4 linked regions of the Homo sapiens genome follow. The protein of the gene in region 3 purifies or fractionates together with the protein of the main gene of each other region. This does not show direct contact. Each region holds a gene or a part of one and is shown on either strand. Other genes may lie near its edges.

The links.
Region 1: the proteins of MRAP2 (region 3) and PTPRF purify together in Homo sapiens (affinity purification with mass spectrometry; 2 studies listed by BioGRID and IntAct, with this or other methods). This does not show direct contact.
Region 2: the proteins of MRAP2 (region 3) and PODXL purify together in Homo sapiens (co-immunoprecipitation; 3 studies listed by BioGRID and IntAct, with this or other methods). This does not show direct contact.
Region 4: the proteins of MRAP2 (region 3) and SLC25A51 purify together in Homo sapiens (co-immunoprecipitation; 3 studies listed by BioGRID and IntAct, with this or other methods). This does not show direct contact.

What each region holds. Positions count from the first base shown.
Region 1 is NC_000001.11:43,533,875-43,540,897, reverse strand, and holds part of PTPRF (receptor-type tyrosine-protein phosphatase F isoform 1 precursor), read right to left. Parts: intron 2,701-7,023; 5' UTR 2,621-2,700; intron 1-2,620. UniProt on the Homo sapiens protein: Possible cell adhesion receptor. It possesses an intrinsic protein tyrosine phosphatase activity (PTPase) and dephosphorylates EPHA2 regulating its activity.
Region 2 is NC_000007.14:131,504,619-131,511,641, forward strand, and holds part of PODXL (podocalyxin isoform 1 precursor), read right to left. Parts: intron 6,816-7,023; coding exon 6,210-6,815; intron 5,714-6,209; coding exon 5,618-5,713; intron 4,968-5,617; coding exon 4,747-4,967; intron 4,411-4,746; coding exon 4,333-4,410; intron 2,109-4,332; coding exon 1,961-2,108; intron 1,704-1,960; coding exon 1,642-1,703; intron 1,418-1,641; coding exon 1,250-1,417; intron 1-1,249. UniProt on the Homo sapiens protein: Involved in the regulation of both adhesion and cell morphology and cancer progression. Functions as an anti-adhesive molecule that maintains an open filtration pathway between neighboring foot processes in the podocyte by charge repulsion.
Region 3 is NC_000006.12:84,057,759-84,064,781, reverse strand, and holds part of MRAP2 (melanocortin-2 receptor accessory protein 2), read right to left. Parts: intron 1,890-7,023; coding exon 1,790-1,889; intron 1-1,789. UniProt on the Homo sapiens protein: Modulator of melanocortin receptor 4 (MC4R), a receptor involved in energy homeostasis. Plays a central role in the control of energy homeostasis and body weight regulation by increasing ligand-sensitivity of MC4R and MC4R-mediated generation of cAMP.
Region 4 is NC_000009.12:37,901,107-37,908,499, reverse strand, and holds the start of SLC25A51 (mitochondrial nicotinamide adenine dinucleotide transporter SLC25A51), read left to right. Parts: upstream 1-4,372; 5' UTR 4,373-4,432; intron 4,433-4,942; exon of another isoform or gene 4,943-4,969; intron 4,970-7,393. UniProt on the Homo sapiens protein: Mitochondrial membrane carrier protein that mediates the import of NAD(+) into mitochondria. Mitochondrial NAD(+) is required for glycolysis and mitochondrial respiration.

The sequences.
Region 1 (7,023 bases), on a different chromosome or scaffold from region 3:
CAGCTCTCACCAAACCAACCACTGGATTATGACGGGAATAAATTATAGTCTCAGCCAGGACCCCTGACCCAGGGAAGGAGGGGCCTGTGGGGAAGAGGGTGAGGCCGCCTTCCCTCCTCCAGCCAGTTGGCCAGAATCCGTGAGCAGAGCCAGGAACAGCCCTCCCTCCCACGGCTGGTATCGGGGCTCCCACCAGCTGGACTGAGTCCCACCCTGTTGCAGCTCTCAGTTTCTCCATCTCACTGAGGAGTGGAGGGGGAGATTAGGAGGAGTGTCGCAGAGACTTGGAGGCGGCAAAGGGTCAGCAGGAGACTAACTCTGGAGGCAAATGACCAAAGGGGACCAGCAGAGGTATCTTCCTGCGGCTGTAACCCCTAAGCCTCCAGGCCCCTTCCTCTGGGGCTGGGGTCCCCCTTGGATTACTGTTTCCCAACTTTGTGCCTCCAAGCCTCTGTACCTGCCGTTCTGTCTATTGGAAAAAAATGTCCTTCTCCTGCCCCAGCACTCACTCACCCCTCAGAACTCTGCTCAAGTGGCCCATCACTATCCATCTTCCCCACTGACCCTCCCCAATTTTCCAGGTTTGTACAGTATAGTGAAAGCAGCAAGAGGCTGTAGACCAGAGGTTCTCAATTCAGGGTAATTTTGCCCCCATGGGACATTACGCAACGACTGGAGACATTTTTGATTGTCGAGACTGGGGAAAGCGGGGAGATGCTACTGGCATCTAGGGGGAAGAAACCAGGGATGCTGCTAGACACCCTACAATAACAAGCCCTGCCCCCACAATAAGGGTTATCTGATCCAAAATGTCAATGGTGCTGAGGCTGAGAAACCCCAACACAGACAACAAGATCCTTTGCCAATTGAGCCTAGAGCCTGACCTGGCCCCTGCCCCAGAACCCAATCCCCTGTGGGCACCCTGGGCCTTGTACCCAAGGAAGCTCCAACCTGGCTTAACTCCTGTATTTGCTGGCGCCTGGCCTCAGGATCTCAGAGTATCTTCCCCTGTACCCCCACATCAGCCCTACCCAGCCTCCAGAAGTCAGGTCCTATAGCACACCCCATCTGCACCCCACCAGACATGCCATCAGCTAGTGGCCTCCCGAGAGGACAGAGGGCTCCACCTTCAGGTACCTATTCTGGCAAGACTGGACTTCGAGTTAGGTCAGACCATCATCTGAGGATGGAGAGGCAAAGGGACACATAGTGTCCCTACACCCACCCTCCCCATCTGACCTTTCCAGCCTGTGACACAGCCCCTCTTGCTGCACCCTCTACATAACCCCAGTGCCCATCTCACCAAACGTAGGGTCTGGACCCCAGGAGACACCCAGGACATACACATTTCCTTCCCCTACCCAGGCCAGACCCATCTCTTCCACAGCCTTGTTAGTTCAGCCACCCGTCCAGATGTTCAGTGGGCAGGGTGATGAACAAGAGAGTCACAGGCTCTGCCTTCGAGGAGCTTACAGAGGGTGAACAGACCCACCGAGCTCTTGGCTCAGGATGGCCCAACCAGAACTCATCTGCCCCAATTCCACTCCTCCTCCAGGGTGTCCAGTCTTGGGGACAGCACCACCATGTTGTCAGTCACCAAGCCCGCAAACCCTCCTTAAATGCTCCCTTGTCCTCATCCCACACATCTAACCCATCAATAAGTTTGAATCTGACCTGCCTCCATCCTCACTGCCACTGTGTTAGTAAGACCTCATCACTTCCTGCCTCTTTGGTGGGCTTCCTGCCTTCAATCACTCCCAACCCATCCCGCACACAGACCAGTGCCACCTTTCAGCACATAAAAATGCAAATCTGCACTTTTGTTTGCCACTTTATTTCACAGCAGGCATTCAGACAGTGTTCCGTGAAAGAATGAACGGATGGGCAATGGACAGATCAACACATGGATATTGCTTCTCTGCTTAAGAACCTTCAATGCTGCTGTATTGCCCTCAGGAAAAAGTCTAAAGTCTTTAGCCTGACATCCAAGGCCCATGATGCTGACTCTAAACCAACTTACCAACCTCATTCCCTGCAACTCCAGCCCACCCATTCTGTGCTTCTAACAGACAGAGAGGAGAACAAGGGGACATCAAAGAGATGCAGAGGACATGCCCAGATCCTGCAGGCACCAAGCTCTTTCTACGACAACCTACAGTCGATGGGAACAGTCTTTTCTACAGAAACGTGGCGAATGGAGAAGCAGAAGAAAGATCCTGGTGTAAGTCCCAGGACATCACCCGGAAGCCTATTTCACACCTACAGTAGCTGACGAGCTGTATGTCATTCCCCATCCACCTCTATCATCCACTCCAGCCAGAAACTCAGGCACCATCCTTGACACCTCCCCTCCTTCATGCCCCACATTCAATCCTTCACCACGTCCTGTCTACTCTACCTCCCTAAATAGCACTCACATCCCTTCTCTCCACTTCTGTCACTGCCTCCCTGGTCCAGGCCTCCACAATCTCTCACCAGTGCACACTGGATCATGTCATGCCCCCTGCTGACACCCCCTCTATAGCTCTCCACTGACCCTGCATCAAATCCAAGCTGCTCAGCCTGGTCCATAGGACCCCTGTGCACCCCTGCTCCTGGCCACTCTGTGGGGCACACTCACCGAGTCTTTGCTTCTTCACCCCGGTCACTCTTGCTGGATACTCAGCACCAAGGGCCGGGCACCAGGGCCTCCACTCCTTCCTGGACAGAAAGGAAAGCATGAGAAAACATCAAGAATTTCATCACAACAGCATATGTATTGACACAGAAAGACATTAAAAATTTGCTGTTTATGCAGAAAAAAAAGCAGGTTATGGAAATGTTCATGTAGAACCATCCCCATCTGGTAAAAATGCCCATCTTTTCCCTTCACTCCCTCGCTCATTCATTTTGATACTCCCTAAGCACCTACTATGTGCTGGGCGTCCTTCCAGGCACCAGCCATATAGCTGTGAGCCACACAGACCAAGTCCCTGACCTCAGCAGTAGACTCTGTGGCCCAGCTCCTCAGCATGACCCCAGAGCCAAGCAGAGTCGGCCCCTCCCACCTCTGCAGCCCTACCTGCCCATGCTCTCCTCCTGCCAGAACGGGAACTTCCTCTTCTGATCCTCAAATGTGCCAAATTTCTTCCTGTCTCCCAGCCTTGCCAGTGCTGAATGCCACTGCCTGGCACAGGCTACCCATGCTCTTCTGGCCAACTTACCCTCGGATCTCAAGTCCAGTGGCACTTTCTCAGGGAAGCCTTCCACAATGTCCCAGACTACCTGCCTGGACCTTGGCTTGGAGCCGTGACCACAAACATGACTATTTATATATTTTTACAATTACTGAGTCACTACCATAAGCTTGATAGGAGCATGGACTGTGGCTGCCCAGCTCATTTCCGTATCCCCAGCGCCTGGCTGACAGCTGGCACATAGTAGGTGCTCAGTCAGCATACACTGAATGAGTGGATGAACGCATGAATGAGTTCAAAGAAAACAGCCCAGCCTGGAAGAACACACCCCAACATACATGCCAGTCTTCAAAGAAGCTTCAGAAGCAATATTTATTTTTGACTTTCTCTACTCTATAATTTTTAAAATGAAGGCGTGCCCCTGGATGCCTCCTCCGCTGGCACACATGCAGCGACAGAGCCCAGCCCCTTCCTTCTAGAGCCATTATTGAGTCCCCACCAGCGTGGGTACCATCCTGGGTGGGGGTGGGGGTCAGACACACCCATACCACCTCATCACCACTTCACGGAAGCTCAGCTGTTTGGCCTACTCGACGCAAGCTGCACCTTGCAGCAGGCTTCTCACCTCAAGCCCCCACATGCACAGTGATCCCCACCCCACACCACTCTGCCACCTTGGCTCCTCCTATAACGGACACAAAGAAACCACAGTGGGAGGGTGGTGCGTGGGAATGTCCTCACCGGCCCAAGACTGACCCTCATCATGAAATCAAGGACACACCTCTGCACCTGGGAATTACCCTCAAGTTGCACTAACCACCTCTGCCAATATGGGGGTACTCTCACCGACTGAAGGCCATCCCAACTGACCCAAGATGGCCCTCGCCAGCTTGGCGACCCAGCCTCCACTGCCCCACCTACCTGCACCAGAACCCGCAGCCCTCTCTGCATGCTTCCCTCCCCGCTCCCCAAGCTGAGTTTCCAGCAGCTGCTGCTCCCAGCATACAGGCTGCCCAGCAGGTCTGGCCAGACAAACCAGCTTCCAGGCCCCAAACTTAAAGGCCCATTTGTCTAGAGATGCCCGCAGGGCCTCACAGTATTCAAGTGAGGTTTTTGGCTGCACCATTGTGCAGAGACCCTGGGCAGAGGGGCAGAGTCCAAGGCAGGGAACTGGGTAATGGGAAAGGCCCCCCAAGCTGGCCAGGCGCTGCTGCCACACCCAGCCACAGCAGGGTCTCGTGCTTGGAGACTGAGACAGGCCCTACATGGAGCAGAAGCCACACCTGGAAAGAGGTGTGTACCCAAAGTGGCCAGGGGCCATTTTAGAAGACTAAACATTTGCAAAGACCCTGAGGCACACAGAACAGCATGAGGGCAGGATCCTAGAAAAGCCAAACAGTAACTTTGAACCACGTCAGTCTGGGATCAAACTGACCTCAAAACAACCTATCAGGCAACCAAATAAAGACTCAGATTCACCAACTGCAGCTCCCAGAACCCACTCTACACTCACACTGGGACAGAGCCCAGAACAACCAGGACAACCAGATACACCCCCAGAACAGAGCCAGAGCTGACATCTGGAAGGTTGACTAGAAAGCTACTCAGAAAGGGCCTGAATGGTTCAGGACCCAAGTTAGAAATCACACTGCTGGCCAGTCACAGTGGCTCACCCCTGTAATCCCGGCACTTTGGGAGGCCAAGGCAGGTGGATCACTTGAGCCAGGAGTTCAAGAGCAGCCTGGACAACATGACAAAACCCTGTCTCTAAAAAAATACAAAAATTAGCCAGGTGGGACTACACCTGTAGTCTCAGTTACTCAGGAGGCTGAGGTGGGAGGATCACTTGAGCCCAGGAGGTGGAGGCTGCAGTGAGCCACGACTGCACCACTACACTCCAGCCTGGGCAACAGAGTGAGATTCTGTTTCAAACCAAAGAGAAAAAGAAAGAAATCACACTGCTTGGCACCCAGGAAGGCCTCAGAAGGGGTGAAGTCCACAGTCATGTCCAATATCAAGAAAGAAAGCCCTTGGGGCCAACGCAGGGCTGGCCCCAGTAGGGTTCCCCATCATCTGCCAGGCCTGAAACCTGGCCCGGCAGTGGGTCAGGAGCAAGTCGATGATACCTAGGGGAATGCAGGCACAGCTGCCCTCTGGAGCAACCCCCAGAATGCCCCTGTGGCTGCACCAGGAACAGTCCCCAGAAACAGCAGCTAAAATACTGCTAAGGAGCTAAAACCAGAGTTCTCAGACCTAGAAGTCACGGTCACACAGAGACATGGTGCATCTGGACCACAGAGGCAGATGGTGGCAGAAAGAGCCTCAGTAGAAGCCCAGGGCCCAGGGAGGGTGGGAGGAAATGGAGAACTCAATACCCCAAGGCTGCCCCTTCTCAAAATTCCCTTCCACCTACCCCAAACATGGAGTCTCTTCTGCAGGCCTCACCTCTAGTCTTCTCAAGCCCACCCACCTGAAGGTCAAACACCTGAGCAACACAAACAATCCCATCGATAACAATAGGGGCAGGCACCCCCTTTGTTGAGCTCCTTGACCTGCTAATCTCAGCTCAGAATTGCAGCAACCTTAGGCAGACAGGGACCCTAACCTTAGCAGTCTATCTTCTCATTAAAGGCAACCTCATGTGACCCCTGATGGGAGGGTGGGTTTACACCATCCCAGTTGAGGATGATTACAGTAACTGCAAACACAGACAACAGTACTCACTAGATGCCAAGCCCTGTGCTACACACACTTTATGCATACTATCTTTAATCCTCATAACAACCCTTATAAGGCACGGGTTTTTATTATAATCATTTGACAAATGAGGAAGCGGATTCAGAGAGGTTAAGCCACTTGCTTAAAGTCACGCTGCTAGTAAACAGAGTCCAATCCTAGCAGTATAAAACTCGAGCTCTTCACCACTGTCGGAGGTTACTTTCTCTCGAGGTGCACAGCTCTATGGTCTCTCATACAGCTCTCGCTTCTCTTGGTCCGACCGACATTTCTCTCCCATACCCTCACACCAAAGCCCCTCCTTGATGTGCCTCCCCCACTGAGCCTCCAATGTCCCAAGTACCTCAAGGGCCACATGTCCAACTAAGAGCTTATTCTCTGCCCCTCCTCACCAAGTCCCTAACACAGTGAAGCTTCAGGGCCTTCAGTGAAGGCCCGCTCAACCACTCCGAGGAACCTGGACTCCTTCCTCTTCCTCTCCTTCACTCCCACATCCAATAAATCATTCTGTCCTGACAAGTGTACCTTCAAGATGGCACCATGCTACCACCTATCAAAGCCAGCATCTTCTCTCACCTTACTTACCTGCACCCTCTTGCCCCACTGGGCATCCTGTCTCCATCCTTTTCCCATAGCCACAGAGCATTTTCTGGAAACATAAACCTGACCACAGCACACTCCACCCTCCCTATCCAAGCTTTAAACCTTTGGTGTTTTCTCTCTGGGTTCTCAGAGTAAAATTACAGGTACTTAACAGGGCATTCAATGCCCTCTGTGATCTGCCACATCTCTGAATACTTCACAAGTGACAACACCTCCCAGTCTTTATTCATACTGGTTTTTATCTATCTCAAGTCCTTTCTCTCTTCTTCAAACTCCTACTCATCCCTCCAAACCTAGTTCACATCACTTCTTCTTGGTCTCCTCTGGGACTCACCTCACCCTGACCTCCGAACTCTCCCCCGTCTCTTGATGAACTCTTGCAATGTTCTAACCCAACTCAGAACCGCAGCTGCTTTAGTTGAGCAGATGCCTGAACCTTAGGGGTGGGCTGCCTCTTCTACATAGCTGTTAGTCCCAAAGGAAGAAAGGCAGCCGGGGCCGAAAGCGC
Region 2 (7,023 bases), on a different chromosome or scaffold from region 3:
CCCTCATTGCTCGCCTGTGGGGCTGGCTGCTCCTGGTGGTCATTCTGGCTCTCAGCCTGCCCGGAACTAGTTGGGAACAAAGACTTGCCCCTCACCCTCACCCTGGTGGCAGAACCTGTGAAGTTAGTGGAGATGGACTTTGTTCTCCAGAGTCCTCTAAGCTCTCTCCTCCCCTTCATCCCTTCCCCCAAAACCTCCTCTCCAGGCACCTACCTCACCTATCATAATGAATGGGAAAAACACTATTAAAAAATGACCTCTCTCGGGCTGGGTGACTGAGCCCTCAAGCCTGGGCAGGATGGGTACGGTGTCTCTAGAATCATCCCTGCGGCAGACAGCAGCCATCTGGCAGAGGCGCTTTCTGTCCCTCTCAAACACAACCTTGAGTGTATGCTAGAATCACCTGGGGAGCTTTTAACAACTACACTGATGGACTCAGAGATTGTTTGAATTGGTGTGGGAGGCAGTCAGGCAAGGGAATTTTTCTAAAGTTCCCCACGGTGTGCAGGCAGGAGTGAGAACCACAGGGTCTGGGTGGCACCATCATGGCGAGAATTCTAGTAAGGTAGGCAGAAGAATTTTTGGTTAGACAGAACACCTAGGCCTGCTTCTATCAATGAATCCTCAGACCAGCTCTGCAAGGAGGTTATCCCTGCTGTGCAGATGAGGAACCTGATGCCCAAAGAGCTCATCTGACTGACTTCCTCAAGGTCAGGGCCAGGACTAACCAAGTCTCCCTGACTCCAGTCCAGGCGTGGTGACTCACACCTGTAATCCCAGCACTTTGGGAGGCTGAGGCAGGCGGATTGCTTGAGGTCAGGAGTTCGAGACTAGCCTGGCCAACATGGCGAAACCCCATCTCTAGTAAAAATACAAAAATTAGGCGGGCGTGGTGGTGGGCACCTGTAATCCCAGCTACTGGGGAGGCTGAGGCACAAGAATCACTTGAGGTTGCAGTGGGTGACACCAGCCTGGGTGACAGAGCAAGACCCTGTCTGAAAAAAATAATAATAATAAAATAAAAAATAAATAAGTCTTCCCGACTCCAAAGCCCACGCTCTGTCCTCTGCCACGCTGCCTCTGTAATGCTCTGTGGACTGAGGCGGCTGCCTATCAGGGGTGGCCTCTGCCTGTTAGAAAGGGTCCAGGGCCTGCTCCCTTTCCTCTTCTGCAACTCGGGAATCACGAGGGGAGGGTTCCTCTGGTGACCTGGGCTGCTTCCCCTGTGTGGCTGCAAACAGCTGCTTACCTGGTCCTTCCTCTGGGAGAGGCGCTGGTGGCAGCAGCCATAGAGGGCCGCCACGAGGAGCAGGAATGATGCCATGCAGACGATGGTGATGATGAGGGGCATGCTGAAGCGGTCCTCGGCCTCCTCCGGTGGCCCCTGGTCCCCTAGCTTCATGTCACTGACCCCTGCCTGCATGGGAAGTGGCAGAGAACAGGCTGGGGGCATCCTCTCTCCCTCAGCCCCCGGCTTCACTGTAGAGCCCCTCCGCTTGCAGTCTGCTAGGGTCCGTGCCGCCGCCCTCTTCTACATGCAGGCACATGACGGGGTTCCTCCCCACAGAGAGAGGGGAGTAACCAGACCTCCCACAAGGGGCTTCGGAGCCACTCTGTCCCCACACTTGGGGGGCCGCTTACCTCCTTTAGTTCATCCCATTTGTCCTTCAGCCGCTCGTACACATCCTTGGCAGGGAGCTTAGCTGTGGGAGAGGGAGACGATGCCCAATGGCCCAGCCCAGAGCGAGGCAGTGGGGGACGGGGACTGCGCCCCAAGAGAGGGACGCACCGTATCTCAGTCTCCTGAGTGTCTCTCGGGTGACCTGGGAGGGGGTGTGGCTTGACAGTTCTTAGGGAACTGAAGGGGCACCACTGTGACCCACCCTCCAATGTGGCTTCTGCATGCCCCCCATTCCCACCCATGCAGGCCCCAGCCCAGGCCCCCTTGCCCTCCACTCACTGTGAATAGTGATTTCTTTGACGACCACGGTCTGACTTCCTGGAACAGATGCCAGCCGTATGCCGCACTTATCTTGGGCCGGGTTGAAGGTGGCTTTGACTGCTCGGCATATCAGTGAGATCAATTTCTCATCCGAAGCGCCCCCTGCCTATGGTGGGGAGAGCGCAGGTGACTCCGCGGGGAGCGTGACAGCAGCCTAGGCCTGTGGGGCTGCCCTCCCAGCTAAGGTCGGGACAGTGCTGTTGCTGTGCTAGAACCTGCCTCCCTCTCTAGCCCCAGCTGGTGCTCCACGCAGGCCTGCCAGGAATCAAGGGTTGCATGCTGTTCTCCTGGGCCAGTTCCTGCCTCCTCTGTCTCGTTCCCATCAGCCCGTTCTCCGCACTGTGTTTATCTGGTCTACGCTTGCACCTTTCATTCCTTTCACCCTAGTGCCTCTTTTTTCCCTCCAAGCTGTTTGCGGATTGGGGGTTGTTTTCATCTCCCTCCCTAGAACGGGCTAGAGAGGGGGCACTGCACAGCAACCCTACCCCACAGCCCGCAGGGAGACTCCAATTCCCCCTAAACTCCCATTCACCAGCCTTTCATGCCCAGTTCGGAGAAATCAGGTGGGGAGGCTGCAGCTCTCAGCAGAAGGGTCTCTACCCCCAAAGCTGAAATACATGTGCCCTTGCCCTAGGCAGAGCCTCTGGCTCTGAAGCCACGGACAGGCTGACAGGGAAGGGGCTCCACTGAGTAGGGGAACAGGTGGGATCTTGAAGCTACCCCTAGGATATCTTGGAGGGGGTCTTATTTAGCTCTAAGAACAAAGATTGTGGCTGACGTGGCTTTAGAGCTGAGGATGAGGGGAGAAGTGTGGGCAGCATGTATCCAGTCCTGCCATGCCATCTAGGGGCACCCCTCCCTGGGGCTTCTCTGACCTGATTCTGGAATAAATGACTAAGACAAAGAAAAGGACTCTAGGGATAGCTTAGCACAGAACCCATACAAACCACCCCTAAGGTTTCTACCAGAATTTCCTTAGGCTTAGTAATTCCCCACCCTGACATCAGGAAGGGATCCAGGGTTTTCCATCTTCCTTTTCTAGCAAAGGGAAAAAAAAAAAAAGTGTCTCACAACAATCACACAGCCTACCAAGCTACATCCAAAAAGAGGGTCTGAGGAAGGGCTGGGCGGGCACCTGACTGTCCCCAGAGCCCATATCATGCAATGCCTGCCTTGTCCAATAAGCCCAGCCCTAGGAGAGCACTGCTCCCTTTTAAAACTCTGGTCTAGATGTAGGCTTTTGTAAAGTTCACTTGGAAAATGCCGGCATAATGGACACCCAAAAGAAAACAACTGCAGAAAATTCAGGCAGCATTAAAGTGTTGTAAGCCCAAATTCTCCATCCTATCTATAGACACCGTGTTCAGGTCTGTTCTAGTTCTAGTTCCTAGGGGGTGGCTGCAAAAAACCGGCACTGACCGGGAGAGGGCAGCAGTGAGCCAGCCATCTCCAGCACCCGCCGCGCTCGGCAGTTATTTACTGAGTGTGCACAGCGCACACTCCCCAGACCAAAGCCTTTGGACCCATGGAGACCGGTGGCCTGAAGGCTGCTCACACACTGCTACCTCCCTCACACAGGTGTGCTCACACGCACGCTCACCACCCAGACTGGAGAAATGCTGGCAGTGGCTCCTGCATTCCTGGGCCCTTTTCTCTCCCACCCATCCCATCAGCTCCTCAGGTTAGAGGGAGAATCTCCCAGCACTGTTCGTCCATCAAGGCTCTCAGATAGTCCACAGACCAGGAAATGTGAAGCCACAGACGATTAAAGCAGACAGACTACACCTCTCATTTTCTCTTGCTTTTCTTTTCTTTCTGTAAAAACAGGGTCTTCCTATGTTTCCCAGGCTGGTCTTGAACTTCTGGCCTCAAGCAAACTTCCTGCCTCAGCTTCTCAAAGTGTTGGGATTACAGGTGTAAGCCACCACACCTGGCCTCACCTCTCATTTTCAATTGAGACATCTGAAACCCAAAGAGATCAACTCACCAAAGTCACTCCCAGAGCTAGGGGCAAACAGGAACTAGGATCAGGGTCCCTCAACTCAGCATACTGGAAATAGTCACACAGTGAAAGCCGAGGAAACCGGGGGGTGGGAGGGGGGGGTCCAGTCCTGTGGGTGTGTCCTGACTTAGAGAAGTCTTAAACCTTGGTCTGTTGCTCTGTAAGATGGGAAAGGACCACTTCCTACTAGGAAGAAATGAGGGCCGGAAAGCAAATGCACCTTAGAAAGATGTTTAAAAATGCACCTAGAAAGAACATACATTCCCTCTCCCTCCCTCAGCCCTGCTGTGAGCCTGCACCTGGCGGCTCAGATCAGCAAGCTACTCACACAGAGGGTGTTTCCTGTGAGGTTCAGGACGAGCTGCTTCTCACTCTGTGTCTGTGTCTCAAGATCCTCACACTTTGCCTGGAAGAAGCCACTGAGATTAAGGTTTGGGCTAATAGTCATGGAATCTTTGACATTTCCCCCCAACTAAGGGGTGACCCAGATAGGAAAGAGTTCACGGCAAGCTGGAGGCATGGCTGGACCCATTCCAGAGCCAGGTATGTCCTGGCTGCGTGGCTTGAGGGCAGCTCAAGCCAGGACCAGGCTAACCAGGGAGAGGGAGGAGGGAATGGGTAAGTGCTGCTCAAAGCCCCAGCCAGGGGCCCTGCGTTGGAGGAAAGAACAGAAAACCTTGTCTTAAAGCCTCTTCTACCCGAGTCTGGGTTCTCCTACTTGCCCCACCCCTGCTGGAGTTACCCAGTTACTCTCATGAGCCACAGTGGGAGAAGGTGTTTTGGGGTATCGGTGGGTAGTTGATGCTGCTGTGGGGCTGGAGCTCATGGTCTCTGGCAGGGTAGGTGTTCTCAATGCCGTTGCCGGGCTCGTGGGCTGCACTGTCTCCTGGGAGGAAGGGGCCGTAGAGCTGGCTGGCATCTGACTGGAGGTCTGTTGAGTTCTTTGCGAGATAACCGATGACGCTGTCATTGGGAAAACGAGGGTAATGAGAAAAGATGAGTGCACCCTTGCGAGAAGAGGACAATCTTTTCTTGCTCTAATAGTTTTCCCAGGTTCTTTGGTCTTACCTCCCACAGAGACGGAAGAAGTGGACTCCTATGACAAGCCAGTGGAATAACCCGGCAAAGTCACAGCAGCCGCAGCAAACGTTCACTGAGCACTTAACTTTGTGCAAGGGACTGGGTGCCTCAAAGGTACTTTCCTACTGAATCCTCACAATCCTCTGGGGAAGGAATCGGCATCATCCCTATTTCATAAACAAGGAAACTGAGGCTCCGAGGGGCTCAGTGATTTGCCCGAGTTCCTGTGCCAACAATGGCAGGGCAGGGATTCGAAGCCAGGATTATCTCAGCCGGAGCCCGCACTCCTACTGTGTGGCACCCTCCTGTGGAGCGGTGGCCTGCTGACTTCAGACCATATGCCTCTGATATGCAGCAACATCACCAGGAGCGCTCAGAAACTCTGGGTCCACAGGTCTGAGATGGGCCATGATCCTAAGGCTCTTGATCCATAGGTAGATTTTGAAATTGATTTACTAGGTTAAGACAAGCTCTTATAAATAATAAGTAAGTAAGTAAGTAAACAGGTATCGGCCGGGCATGGTGGCTCATACCTGTAATCCCAGCACTTTGGGAGGCCAAGGTGGGCAGATCACCCGAGGTCAGGAGTTCAAGACCAGCCTGGCTGACATGGTGAAACACTGTCTCTACTTGAAAAAAAAAAAAAAAAAAAAAAAAAAATTAGCTGGTGTGCTGGTGCACACCTGTAGTCCCAGCTACTCGGGAGGCTGAGGCAGGAGAATTGCTTGAACCCGGAGGTGGAGGTTGCAGTGAGCAGAGATCATGCCACCGCACTCCAGCCTGGGTGACAGAGCGAGACTCCATCTCAAAAATAAATAAATAAATAAATAAATAGGTATGAAATAGAAACTATTCCCCTCTCAGGTTCAAGCAATTCTCCTGCCTCAGCCTCCTGAGTAGCTGGGATTACAGGCGCCTGCCACCATACCCAGCTAATGTTTGTATTTTTAGTAGAGACAGGGTTTCGCCATGTTGGCCAGGCTGGTCTCGAACTCCTGACCTCAGGTGATCCACCTGTCTCGGCCTCCCAAAGTGCTGGGATTACAAGGCATGAGCCTTTTCAGAGCCATCACGCCTGGCCCTGAAAAGTTTCTTGGTGCTTGAAGAAAACCAGGCATTACTTACGTAGGGTGGTGGTCATCCCCGGGCTTGTGAAGGTGTAGCCAGGGATAGCCACAGTGCTTGAACTGCTTGAAATTTTCATAAGATGGTCATGTCCCGAGCTTGTTGGGGTGGCCACAGGATGCGTCGAAGTGGGTTGTCGGGGGCTAAGTGGACTTGTAGGGTGAGGGGTCGTCAGATGTTCTGCCTTAGTGGATGTGAGGTCTGTGGTCACACTGTGGCTGCTTTTCCCCCCAGAGTTTGTTGTATCTTCTGCTCCATTCTGGCTGCTTGTGGTGTTAGGTTTAGCTGTGGCTGTGGAGGTTGCAACTGTAGTGGTGTCTGCACTTTTTGTGCTCTTGGGGCTCTCGATGGTGGTAGTAGGGTTGCCTGAGCCGCCTCCTCTAGCCACGGTAGTGTTGACTGGGCCTGAGACTTGCTGAGCCAGGGTTGTAGTCCCCGGTGAGTCACTGGATACACCAAGGGTGGTCGCCTTGACCGAGGCCAAGATTTCGTTGGCCTTGGAAGTGGGGACTGTGCTCTGCTGGGCTGTATCTGTAGCCATGATGGTGACACTGGATGCTGGAGTCGGTGCTGTTTTGTTAGATGAGTCCGTAGTAGTCTGGGTTGCTGTTTGTAAAGATAACAGAGAATGGAGTTAGGGCTGGGAGGCTTCCTCACCACGCTTCTCCAGCTCTTCCCCAGGATTCAGAGGCCTTGCTCGCAGCCCTGCTGTCTGCCTTGCTAAAGGCCTGGGTCTTTGGTGAATCCAGAATTTTCGGAGGTTCAAGAAACCTCTTTTTTCTGTCTTTTTTTTTTCTTCTTCCTTTTTGTGGAG
Region 3 (7,023 bases):
GGCGCGGTGGCTCACGCCTGTAATCCCAGCACTTTGGGAGGCCAAGGCGGGCGGATCACGAAGTCAGCAGATCGAGACCATCCTGGCTAACATGGTGAAACCCTGTCTCTACTAAAAATACAAAAAAGTAGCTGGGCGTGGTGGTGGGTGCCTGTAGTCCCAGCTACTGGGGAGGCTGAGGCAGGAGAATGGCGTGAACCCGGGAGGCGGAGCTTGCAGTGAGCCAAGATGGCGCCACTGCACTCCAGCCTGGGTGACAGAGCAAGACTCCGTCTCAAAAAACAAACAAAAAAACAAAACAAAACCAAAATGCCAGGATTCCTGTGAAACTTATATTCACTCTCCCAGGTCTCTCCCACCCTCCCCTGTCCTGCTCTGTGCTTGGGAAACTAGCCTTTGATGCAGCCTCTGGCTGCTGGTTGTGTTCAGCCAGTGGGGAGCAATGGTGAGAAATGGGAAGGAGGGAGAAGACTGAGGTCTTGGTCTTAACTTTGAGGCTCCTTCCCTGAGAGGTCACACTGGATTAGCTGTGTCCCTCAGCCCAAAGTCACAACTCCTCTCAGCAGACTCCAGGGTTCCAGCTGTGGCCCCACCCCTTGCTTCCTGGGATCTAGGATGGCTGCTCCTCAGTGTTGCCAGCCCTGCTGTCCTGCATGAGCCTGCGTAGTTGCCCTCTTCCCTGTCCATAACTTCCGCACAGCCCCTTTATCAAAAACTTTTTTTCTTTTTCTTTTTTTTAGACAGAGTCTGGCTCTGTTGCCCAGGCTGGAGTGCGGTGGTGTGACCTTGGCTCACTGCAACCTCCACCTCCCAGGTTCAAGTGATTCTTGTGCTTCAGCATCCCAGGTAGCTAGGACTATAGGTGCCCTCCACCACAACAGGCTAATTTTTTGTATTTTTAATAGAGACGGGGTTTCACCATAGCGAGGCAGGTCTTGAACTCCTGGACTCAAGTGATCTGCCTGCCTTGGCCTCCCAAAGTGCTGGGATTACAGGCGTGAGCCACCATACCGGCCAAAAACTCTTTTAATTACTGTTGCCTGCTGGTGCTGACTAATGAGGTATTCAATATTCTCTATTTTCCCTTTTATTAAAAATTTGGTATAAAATATATAAATCCTTTAATATATTTCTGAATTTTTTACAAGCCATTACTGAACAAATACTTTTTGATGTTTCTCAATGTTCTTTAAGCACTCATGTAATACTTTCCTCCATCAATCCAAAGTCCAGCATCATCACAAGTCCTACCATGTTATGAGAATTATGTAAACCACAGTGTTTGCCTTTGTATCCTAGTTTTAAGAAAACTCTGTTAAATTTATTAATCATTGTCAATAGTTAAATTGAGTTGAGTATCCAGGAACAACTATTACTCTGCTTCTTGAAATAATTTTTAAAACTGGTTTTCATCCTATTTTGCCATTGTCTTTTCCACTGTTTTTAATATGGTGAATCATCTAAATCCTTTTGGGAATATGAATAAAATACATTGTAATTAATAAACATTTCAATGTAAAAATCAGGCCCACATCATCATTAAGACTGTAGGAAAGGACCAAGAAACCCAATTTCATAAAAGTCCACTTGAAAATAAGCCCAAGACGCAAGAAACAAAAAGCCAGGAGAATAGCTGGATCCCATCCACGGGCATCTGGGTCCAGACAGCAAATCTATAACCACCCCCTTCTCTTCATCCACGGGAAGCACCTCCGGCCCTGGGTAGTAGTTTCTATTTCCTCAGTCTCCTGTGAGGCTTAAGAGACATTTAGGAACAGCCCAAACTTACTCTTGGTGTGGGGCTCCTGTCTTGGTCAGCAAGGTCAGCACAAAAAACATAAAAATCACGAAGACTGCAAGACCAACCCAAAATCCAATCACAATGGAATCTGAAAGACAGTTAATTCTGGGATTAGTATTTCACAGTAGTTTAAAACTTGAACATTCAAGAATCAGAGCTTTTTGGAGAGGCTTTGGTACATGAAACATGAAAGGAAGTCAACAGTCTGATCCGCAGTTGGCTGGAGACTGATAAGATGTAAAGGATGAGGAGGAGGGAAGAGTCTGCTCCGCCTCCAGGTTTCTGTCTCAGATAGCATGAAGGGATTTAGGCCTCATTGACTCATGCTTTCCATATCTCAAGGAAGGAACCTAGACCAGAGCATAGGTTATCTAGGACCTCAAGATTCCACTAATGTGTTTTGAGTTAGAAAATAAAATTTTTAGCAGACTATCAACTCAAGTTTTAAGTGCATTTGGATTCCTACTGTTAAAAGAAAAACTTTAGACAAATTAAATTTAACAGATATTAACTGTGCAAGGAAAACAAAATTCTTGAACCGGGAAGCTCCCAGAATCAGAATAGATTCAGAGAGACTCTGGGCTGCCTCATGGTTGGTTAAGATTTAGGGACAGAAAAAGGAAAATGATGTACAGAAAAAAGAAGCAAGGTACGGAAACAGCTGGATTTGAACACCATTTGAACAGCTGTCTGCCTGGGAGTGCCTGAAGTGTAGCTGCTGTGATTAGCTGAGACTGAGCTATTGTTACAGAAGCATTGGCTAGGTTTTCAGTTTGCTTACCTAGTAAGCTAGGTCACAGCTCATACCTAAGAATGCAAGTATGCAAATAATGGAGGCCTTCTTGGGCCAAATTTTAGTTTAACAACTCAATTGGTTAGCATCTCAATTAGGTAGCAACTTTGCATTCTCACTTACGTTCACCATGGATAATTCAGGCTCTCATTACTTCTTGCAGAGAACATACAGATGGCCTCTTGAGTGCTCTCTCTGCCTTCTGCCTTTCCCTGTGCTTTATTTCTGTACAAACCTGCTTTAATCACAGCCCTGATGATATTGCTCTTTCATGAAAAGCTCTCCAACAAAAACAGAACTGACCCACTTTTCCAGAGTAAAAGAGATTCCACACATAAAGCACTTTATACAATGTCTGACATCTGAGAAAACAGTACACCACAGGTGCTGGCTACTGTCATTAGAATTGTCATTTTCTCCCAATTTACCACTTTAAAAGCCATGTGTTTCCAATCAAACTAGGGGACACTGTGTCCCTGTATTTACCTTAGCCACAGCTTCCTCACAGCCACACCTTACCAGGGCTCTTACCACTACCTGGCTGGAACAACTTTTCCCAACGTGGAGCTAATGAAAGTGTATCCATCCTTCCAAGTCCATCCGCTACACTATCTACTAAGCCTCAACTAATTTCCATAATTGATGTGTTGTCTCCCTCCTTTGAACCCAATAACATTTTTGTCTGTAATTCCCTAAACAGGGCTCTCCTTGGTCCTATCTTGGATAACAATCACAATTCTTTATCTCTAGGACCAGGGTTAGATTGGATTGTCTACAGAACTTGGTACTTGCACAATAAGGCCTCAAATCTAGGACACAACAGAGTTGAATCATTCTACATTTTTTGGCCTACACTAAGAAGCTTGTCTATGTGGAAATACAATGAGGATGCTTAGCAATTTTCTAAAAATAAGTGATTAGAGCTTAAATATTAAATGTGTTTAAATGCAAAGCTTTATTCTAATTAAATTATGTATATGTAGCACTTTTTCCAAAGTGAAGAAATCAGATTAACAATTTACTCTGCATAATTCATACTTTCATCCTACATATACTATTGCCTAGAGGTTAACAATGTGTATTCAGCACTCTGAAAAACTAATGTGTCTAACCTTAAGTGCCAAAGAAATAGAAATTGTATACTTTGCCTTTTAATATAGTAGAAATGAGGCATAAAAAAAGACATAAGGGCCAGGCGCAGTGGCTCACGCCTGTAATCCCAGCACTTTGGGAGGCCGAGGCGGGCAGATCACGAGGTCAGGAGATCAAAACCATCCTGGCTAAGACAGTGAAACCCCGTCTCTACTAAAAATACAAAAAAAAAAAAAAAAAAAATTAGCCGGGTGTGGTGGCAGGCGCCTGTAGTCCCAGCTACTCGGGAGGCTGAGGCAGGAGAATGGCGTGAACCCGGCAGGTGGAGCTTGCAGTGAGCCAAGATCGCGCCACAGCACTGCAGCCTGGGTGACAGAGCAAGACTCCGTCTCAAAAAAAAAAAAAGATGTAAGGACAAATACCAAACACCACATGTACTGAGGTACAACTAACATGAAACAATTAAATCTCAACTATCTAGGCATGGACTGTGAAGAAACATTGTACAGATAAATAACAGTTCCCTACACTGTACTTTATCAACTGCCTGCATAGCAAAAGCAAATTCTAAAATTATACACCAATGCTATATTTAAGTCTTCGGTTTAGAATTGAATCATGTTGATTGACATTTTTCAAATCTGTGTATTAGGAAGGTGTTCTCCTAAGGACAGCTTTCACACTGCAAATGGTGGACTGACTCCCAGAGGTGGAGGAAAGCGTGCCCTCAACCCAGCCCAGTCCCCCTTCCCTCTGCCCTTCTAAGTACCCCCAGGGAGATAATCAAAAAGCAGCAATAATGTGAAGCATGGGAGGGTTACAGCCTTCAGAGAAGGCAGGTGGCGGCAGAGTTGGGGAGAGGCAGGCTGTGGGTAAAATCTGAGAATCCTCATGATCCAACAGCATTTCCAAACATTTCCTTAATAATGCGGCATCTATGTTTTTCATGGCAATATGCTTTAAGTAGCTCTGCTTATTCACATTTCCCTTTGAACAAAATTTAGCTTCCTCAAGTTATTTCCACTAATTTCCCCCAACCTCATCTTCTGCCCTATGACCCATCCCCAGGGGATTTTCTCACCCTGAGCCTCTTACAAGAAACATCAGAGATCCCCATCTCATCCCAGAAATATCCAAACTCTCCTGAAGTTTTATTCACATGTAAGTTTCATGGGCATAGGCACTACAGTAAGATGGGAAAAGTGGAGCCCGTTGTCTTCCCAAAAGCATCCTTTTCTGGGAAGAAGTCAGAATAAAGCTTTATACAGAGCAAAGCTCCAATGAGGCTAGATGGTTAAGAAAGTCAAAAGAAGCCTTCCAAACGAGTTTCCACCACCGCCAAGCTACCACACTCTGTCCTGTCTAGACACTGAGCTACTTAGAGACTACTATTGTAAAGGGGTAGAACAATTGCCCAGGGGAATTGCAAATGGAATGCGTCAGAATAAAGTAACCCCCCTTAACCTAACCTTTAATGAATGGAATGGAACAAGAGAGCTGAAAGTTGACATGATTTTTTTCCTTCCCAATCTAGGGTAGGACTAGGTTAACTACTCCATCCGACTCACCCTCCTCTCCACCTCCTGAGAATAAATGGTGAACTTTCCACTTCGTGGTTATATGAAAAACAAGGGTTAATACTTCACTTGAAAGAGAGGTTCATGACACTTTCCTCACACCACTTTTTGTTCCTAAGGCAGTAGGGCCAATTCTGTGATATGAATTCCTGGCAAAGAGCCAACAGTGATGTTCCCACACTTGTCTCTACTATCTTACTCCAAGCCTTTGCAAACTCTAGCTGTTTCTCATCCTAATGACCTGGCTTCTTGCTGACCCATCCATGCATGGGTCTGGTATCTGCAAGGTGGCACACGAAAAAGCATGAATTTGGCCACCACTGATAGCTCAAATTAAGAGGCTATTCCTTTAGTCTTTTCTCAACACAGCGGCCAGAGTGGTCCTGCTAAAATGTGATTGTCCACTCATTGACTCATCAGCTTTTGCTTCTGATGCTTTAAGAACACCCTGTCTCACCCAGCCACACTCTTCATAAATGACCCATTCCTCTCCTTCCCTTTATAGTGAGACACTTGAGAGATTTGTCTGTACATGCTGTCCCCAATTCCTCTCCTCTCATTTTTTCTTGAACCAATTCCATCAACCTTTTACCCCCAGCATTCCACTAAAACTGCTTTTCAAATCATTGCCAGTAACTTCTACATTATAAATCCAATGGTCAAATCTCAGTCTTCAATTAACTTGACCTAATAGCAGCATTTGACACAGACTGTCTTTGCAACCCTTTTTTCAGTTGGCGTCCAAAAAACCACAATTGTCCAGTTTTCTTCCTACTTTCTGTACATTCCTCTCAGGCACCTATGCTGCTATGCAACCCTCCAACTTCTAAACACAAGCGTGCCCAGGGCTCAGCATTGGACTCTTCAGTTTTCTGTCTACACTCACTTATCCAGCCTCTTGGCTTTGAACGCATACCGTTTACATGCTGATGACTCTCAAGTCTACGGCTTCCCCCGACACCTCTCCTCCCTTGTCCTCCTGGATATGTGATAGATGTCTCAATTTAACAGGTCCAAAACAGAGCTCCTGGGGTTCCTCTCTGAAACCTCCTTCTCCCATACTCTTCCCCCTCTCAGTTAAAGGCAATTCCATCCTGCCAGTTACTCAGGTCATAAATCTTCAAATCATTCTTGACTCTTCTTTCTCTTACACATACCGCCAATCCATTGACAAATCTTGCCAGATCCATCTTTTAAAAATATCCAGAATGTATGCATTTCTCACCACTTCACTCTCCCTACCTGGCTCCAAGCCACCATCATCAGCTGCCTGGACTATGGCAAAAGCCTCCTGAATGGTCTCTGCTTCTAATCTCATGCCTTTCACTCCGCAGTTGCAGAGTGATCTGTTGAAACCTAAGCCAGATGGCACTCCTCTGCTCCAGACCCTCCAGTGACTTCTCAGAGTAAAAGGCCAAACAAAGTCCTTAGCATGACCTCTAAGGCCCCCCCATGTCCTTGTCCCCACAGCCTCTTTGACTTCGTTTCCTGCTGTTCTGCCTCTTATCACTCCCCTGGTACCACGCTGGCCTCCTTGCATGATCCAGTTCACTCCCGCCAAGGATCCTTTTCTGGGATGTTCTTCCCCCAGATATATTATAGCTCAATCTCTCACTTCCTTCAGGTCTTTTATCAAATCTCTCCTTCTCAGTAAGGCTTTCGATGGCAATTCTATACTGTCGCCTCCACACTCCACATCCCTTTACCCCCACTCTATTTATCCTTTTATATTGCCATCTGACATTATCTATTTAACTATT
Region 4 (7,393 bases), on a different chromosome or scaffold from region 3:
CTTCCCTCTCCTATCAACACTCAGAGCACTTGGTATGTGCGGCTCTCAAGCAATGCTGATAATTTTCCTTAGGACTGTTTCCCCTCTGAGCTACAGGCTCATTCACTTACACATTCCTGAGCCCTGTAGGACCCTGTGTTTCAAACCACAGGTCACTATAATGGGTCAGGATGTCAATTTAAAGCTATAATTTCCCAAAATTGCCTGAGAAGAATCAGCCAGGGCTAGCGTTAAATATACACAGGCCAACTGGCCTCTCTCCTGGGGATTCTAATTTAGTCTGTCTTGGAACTGATTATATATATATATCATATATATCATATTTGTGTATATATCGTATGTGTGTATACATCATGTGTGTATATATATCATATGTGTGTATATATCATGTGTGTATATATCTATCATATATGTGTGTGTATATATCATATGTGTGTGTGTGTGTATATATATCATATATATATATATATATGTTGGGTTTTTTTGAGTTAGGGTCTAACTCTGTCTCCCAGGCTGGAGTGCAGTGGTATGATCACAGCTCACTGCAGCCTCAACCTCCCAGACTTAAGCAATCCTCCTGCCTCAGCCTCCCAGGTAGCTGGGACTACAGATGTGTGCCACCACGCCTGGCTAATTATTTTATTGTTTATAGACAGGGTCTCACTGTGTTGCCCAGGCTGGTCTCAAACTCAAGTGATCCTCCTGCCTCAGCCTCCCAAAGTTCTGGGATTACAGACATGAGACAGATCTATTTTTTAACCAGACCTCTAGGACCTAGAATCTAGGTCAATGCTTTTCAATCTGTAATGTGCACACAGCACACCTGGTGAACTTGTTAAATACCAATCCTGGTTTACTGGGGCCAGAATTCTGCATTTCTAACACATTTCTGGGTGACTCAGTGCTGGTGCTGTCCCTAAGTGTATGGCCCATAGGTAGTTTGCCCAAATTCAAGAGATTCTTGTCTTCAGGCACATTGGGGAAGCAAGAATTGAGCACTGTTGTTCTCAACCTCAGCACACCTGGGAAGCTTTTAGACTATACTAAGGTTCAGGTCCCACTGCAAACCAATTAAATCAGAACCTCTGGGGCAGGGGAATGGGGCCGGGGAGTGGGGCGGGGGGTGGCTGTTGTTTTGTTTTCAAAGCTTCCCAGATGATTCTAATGTGAAACAGGGCTAAGAATCACTGATTCAGTGGGGCCCCACCACCATTAAAATGAATGAATGAATAAACTGAAGAGAACAAACAATCTCCCAGGCTGGCAGGGTAAACCCTGGGTCTCTGTTATATGTTATTAATACAGATGCACGTGAGTTGCTGGATCAGAGCAGGTTTGGACATGAATGAAGCAGAAAGGGAGAAGGTCCTGGAGTTCACAGACCAGCCATGGGGACAGACTGCAAGGACCTGAGGTGGGGGCAAGGGAGGGTGGGGCTGACAGCACTGAGGGGCTCTGCAGCAGGACGTAGTGAGTTCAGATGGGGCAGCAGTGACCAGAAGCCTCTGAACTGAGCCATGCAGGAGGAACAGGACATTGTTATGAAGCAAGCAAGACCTTTTAGGCACAGAGGACAAAAAATACCCAAGCGTTGGGGGACGTGAAAAGAATGCAGCAAGTTCAGGGAAGGGAACACCAAGGGGCTGGCTGGCCCTTGGCCATTTGGTACTGGGGGTGTGAAGGGGAGTGGCAGAGATAGTCACTCACAGTAGCTGATACTCCACTGACAGCTTGCGTAAGGCTGTTTTCGTGCACCTAAGAGCCAATGAAGTCTGAGGGCACCAGACAACCTTCTAGAAAGCATTTTTTGAGGGGAGGAGTGGAGGGTGATTAAGCAAAGATCCACCAGCAACCTTCTTATGGCCCTTTCCCCCAGGAACCCAGGCCCTGCCTTCCAACAGCTCTGCTCTCCACCCGCATTTCATTTCGGCAAACATCTCCTAGGCGCCCTTTTTGCCAAGCACTGAGTTGGAGAGCCAGGAAAAAGCCAGACAGCTCTGCCCTCATGAGCTGGCGGTGGGAAAGATCACACTGTCATGAGTGACTACAACATAGGACAGGATGTCAGAAGCGCCCCAAACTTTGGGGCATGGGAAGGCAGGGGCAAGGACAGTCAATTTTGCCTGAGATGATCAGGGAAGCCTTCTAGGAGGGAGAGGAGGCAAAAGGACCTTGAAGGGCTATTTGGTGAAGGGCTAACATGTATCAGTGGTGAAAGGGGGAAACAGGCTTAAGGAACACAGGATTTGCAAAACACTGAGACTGCATATGGCTAAAGCACAGAATATAGTTGGGGTTGAGGTGGACAGACTGGCAAAAGGGCCAGGACAGGACAGCCCCGTGCACCGAGTTAAGGAGTTTGGATTTACTGGGGGAACCAAGAGGGAACCAAGGGGGAACCATTGGAGATTTTTAAGCTGCGGGATGACATGATCACAGCTGGGTTGGAGGATATCTGGCAGCTGACCTAGTGGTTGGAGGTATGGAATGCAGGAATGGGTGGATGAGGACAGAAATGAAGGGCTAACTTTAAGATGGATCTGGTATCCAAAAATAGAGGGTTTTCATCCCCAACATTCATATGCCCAAGAAGAGCCAATGAAGGGCCTGGGGGTTTCTGACAAGGAACTAAGAGCTGGAGGGGCAGAGGACTGTGCTGTGGCCTGCAGCAGCATAAAAGAAGCAGACTGGGCTCAGCTCCAGACCTCAGTTTTCCCGTTAGCCTGGGATTTTCTGAGTCTGGTGTGCCCCAATTGTGTGTTTAATTTCAGTCTTTTCCTTCTTGTTCAGGTTTTACCGCAGGAGAATAACCTCTCCATTCTAATCTGAAATTAATTATTTATGCTTATGAACACGCTGGATGCCTGCCTGGTTTATTTATTTTTCAAATAATGCATCTGAATAGGCATTCACACAAGACAGGGCAAACATAATTTTGAGGCAAAGGCCCTTTCCAACTGTTGCCCGATTAACTGTTCTAAGCCATTGTGTAGCCTTGTCCTTATCCTGCGGAGTCCAAAATTTATCCCTCGCGTACTAATTAGATGGCAGGTGTCTGTGTCTGACAGTCAAGATTCGCATTATCCAGCCCCACCACCTGACCCTTACAATCTTATCTCCTGCTGCTATGACTTTCTCCACTGGGCCAAATTCCACTCATCCATCCTCCAAGGCCCAGTTCAAACGTCTGCTCTGTGAAGCCATCTCTGGTTCTCCCTCGAGGGGGGAGGTCCCCTCATGCTTCTGAATTTCCAGTCTTTTGTTGTTGTATCCTTCATCAGACGCTAAGCTCCCCAGGACCTGGCACGCAGTAGGTTCCTCAATGGAGCGTTTGCTGGAATGGGGGAGGGTGGTCTCCAGCTTCCCGAGAGGCACCTAAGCACGCCAGCCAAAGTGGGGCTGGGCAGAGACCAGACCCGCTTTTGGAGTCAGTGTCTACAAAGTGCTCTCGGGGGAAGGGGGCACGCGGGGAACGTCGCCCACCCGGAGCCGATCCCCCCAAGAACGCTTCACTCGGGTGGGGTTACTGCTTGGGCTCGCCCCAAGCACAGTGCGCACACTTCACACATCCGCAAGCCTCCTGAAACGCCTCTCCCCTCAGGCCGACCTTTCTGTTTCCTTCAACGCCTCCCATCTGTTGTGTGCGTTCCAGTTTCCAACTCAGAGTCAGAACCATCATTTCCAAAGACTCCTGCAACAGCCCGAGGACGCATACAAGGCATGGGTTACTTTTCAGACGGAGATTTGGGGCTCAGGGTCCAGCGACTCACCCAAGGTCACTCTCAAGAAGTATGAGGGCTATGACTTTGACCCAAGCCTTCTAACTCCCCGGGCAGCGCTCCTCCCAAGCCCCCCGCAAGCTGTCTGAGCTTCAAAGGAAAAAGTTTAAAAGTGATCCATACGTCCCAAAGCACGCACAAAGCGTTCTTCTGTAAACTGCGGCATGGGTCGCTGATAAAAGGTCCCTCTGAAGGTTTGAAGATACTCAACAAGGCTCCACAGAGGGTACTTTGGAGTTTTCCGCGAAGGCGCTCGCCCCGCAGAACCGACAAGGCCCCTAAAACCGACAATGCCCAGACGCCCCCTGCAGGCAGCGCGCTAGAGAACGCGTTGGCTGTTTCTGGCACGCTGAGGCCACCGTACGGCATCAAGGGTGAAGCATGGTGGCTAGCGGAGCCCGCATCCTGACAGGTGTGCTGGCGTGGCCCTCTACCTGCCCCGCCGCGGCGGCCTGCGGCCAGGAGAAGTAGGCTGGCGACATCTGGCGGGCCGCGGGCCGAGGGAGGGGAGGCGGGGCGGGGCGGTGTCTCCCTCACGTGACCCCAACAGCGCCCAGCGCGTCGCGCTGCGCCCCAACCTCGGGGTCGGTCACAGTCTGCGCCTGCGCGGGCCCCGGCTCGCTAGCCGTCCTGCGGGACGCCGGCGCTGATGGGTGAGTGTGGGACGAGCGTGGGGAAGCACCGGGCTTTCTTCGCATGAGGTTGGAGGGAGGGGAAACGCGCTGAAGGGCCCGCTGGGGCAGGCTGCCGCCCTGGGGGCCCATCCCTGTCTTCTGCGCGCTCCGGCTGCCCTGGCCCGGTCCCTGCGGGCCCCACCCAGGCGGCGCGGGCGGAATCAGTTCTGAGCCTCCTCGGCTCCGGGCTCCCCCGCCTGCCGCGGGTGTTTGTCCGGCTGCTGGGCGACCTTTCCCGCGAAGGCGCTGTCCCTTCATTCGGGCGCGCCCTGGGCTGGGGAGGCACCTCCCTGGTGCACAGGAACCGCAGGGGCGGGGAGGAGCCGGGAGCTGCCTGCGCCCGGGGGACAGCGGGGATGGCACCGCGCAAGGGCCTCTGCGTCCCGGGAGACTGGGATTTCGGCCTCACCTCGGGACCCCTGACTGTGAAGTGTCAGAAACGGAAGAGGACTTAGTGATCTTGTCCAACCCCCTCCCCGCCTTTCACAGGTTGGGGAAATGGACGCCTGGAGAACGGTAAGTTCAGCTACATAGCCTGGCAGTGCTTGTTCTGCGACAGCATATTGCATCGCGTTGTAGGAAGCTCACTTGTACAAGGATTTTCGGGGACGATGGTGTTGGTGGTGTTAGTCTCCATCCATTATTTGGTGTTCAGTTTAGCTAGATGGAGTATGTCAGCACCTCAACTTCCTGCAAAACCTTTGTTTTGCATCTCACAGCTCTACCTAGCTGATCTTAATTCCCACCTTCTGTTTTTCTCTACTTGTAATCTCTGAAACAGAAGCCCTTGAAATGTATAGTGACCTTGCCATTTTGAGCCGCCTCTGCCCGTGCTTTGAAAGGATTCCATAGGATCAAAAGGTGCTAGGACTCTTGAGGTCCCATAGTGGTTTAGAGCACAGGTTACCGCTTTGGAACTGGAATCACCCTTAGCGCATCTCAGGGGAAAACAAGCTAGGAGTTGACTCATCTGATCTCTCGTTTGGTAAATGAAAGCAAACTCAGATCAGTGGATTTTAAAATCAGATATTGCTTTGTCTTTATATTGGCAAGCTAGTGTCGTAACTAGGACTAGACCCAGGCTGATCTTGTTCTGAATGCTGACTCAGACCTGCTGACTAGTGGAAATTCACATCCTTTGAGAATTGGAGTCACCCTCTCCCCAGTTTTTGCAGAGACCTTTGTGCTAGGATCATATCTGTATCATGCTGATCCATGTAGGCTGTAAATTATAATAAGGTTTTAGACTTTACACTGTTTTCTTAGTCACAGAAGCTTGACACTTGTAGTTGCTTGAAAATCAAGTTCATTAACTGCTCCCTTATGATGAGATAGTTTTACGTAGCAAACAAGCGTAAAGTTATGGTAAATAAATTTTGCAATAAATTGCAAAGAATTATCCACATTAATGAATAAAAATATAAAGATCAGTTTAGCAAAGAAATTTAACCATGTTCACAGTATAGGTAAACATGCAAAAGTCTAAACTGTACTACCAAATAATGCTGTGCACATTATCCTTCTATTGCTAAATTAAGAACATATTCACACCATCCTGGTGTGTAGGATTAAACTAGAGAAAAAGCTTTAAATCTGTAAAGTCCAGGAGGGTTTCATAACATTTTTTCCCCCATCTAGGCCTATTTTTTAAATCTGAGAATCTCAATGTACAGTAATGTTCTTAAAATAGTTGGATATGGTGGTCAATAAATGGTTAACTTCTGTTAGCTGTAGTTTTCTGCTTGTTTAATAACAGTCCCCATTCTCACACAGAGTCATAAATAAACTAACCTTTATTTGCAAAATTTCAGAAAGTAATACAAGTAACATTCCAGTAAAAGTGAACATGGACAAAATTTTTATTGTTGTTCAAGTACACAAATAACTTGGCTTGTACTGTCAAGGAGCATGTGTAAACAGCTTGTAGGTGGTGACTTTAGAATTTAAAATATTTTGTGTGCTCCGTATGTAAAAATAAAATGGTTTTGACATTCATAAATTGTCACAATATCATGTAATCATGTACATTAATCTAAATATTCTTGTTGATTTAACATTGTTTAATTCTGAAACTGAAGAAGTGCAAAGCATTACATAGGTATCAAGCATTTCTAGACTAAGTTTTAGGACTTCAAATATTGATTAATCTTAGCTTGTAAGTGTACTAATAAGAGTTTTTAACTCATACCTATCAGCTGAATCAGTAAAAAGTAAGGATGTAGTAGAACTAATAATTATCAAACTCAATACCCTAACAGACTTCAGTGTCTAGAACATATCTTGAAGTTAATCATATTAAGCCCCAAAACTCTGTACATTAAGAAAGGGAGAGGAGAGAGGGAACAGATGATATTCTGGAACCTTTTTTTTCCCTTTAATCTTATTTTTACTGTGAATAACAACACTAGACTCACTGAAGATTTTGGGACACTTACTAGCAAGCATAGTTAAGACAAAATGCCAACTCTCTTAAATAGTAATAAGAGTTTTGCTCAAAGAAAAGTACACAGCCTTAAACAGTCAAGTTATGAAATAAAGGATAAAAATAGTTGTCTCACTTAAGAATTACAAGAAAATAAGCCAGGCACAGTGGCTCACACCTGTAATCCCAGCACTTTGGGAGGCCAAGGCAGGCTGGATCACTTGAGCTCAGGAGTTTGAGACCAGCCTGGCTAACATAGTGAAACCCCGTCTCCACTAAAAATACAGAAATTAGCCGGGTATTGTGGCATGCCTGTAATCCCAGCTACTTGGGAGGCTGAGGCAGGAGAATCGCTTGAACCCAGGAGGTGGAGGTTGCGGTGAGCCAAGATTGCGCCACTGCACTCCAGCCTGGGCAACAGAGTGAGACTCTGTCTCAAAAAAAAAATTTTTTTTTTAAACTAGGTGAGCATGGTGGCTGATGCCTGTAGTCCCCTTTGGGAGGCCAAGGCTGGCAGA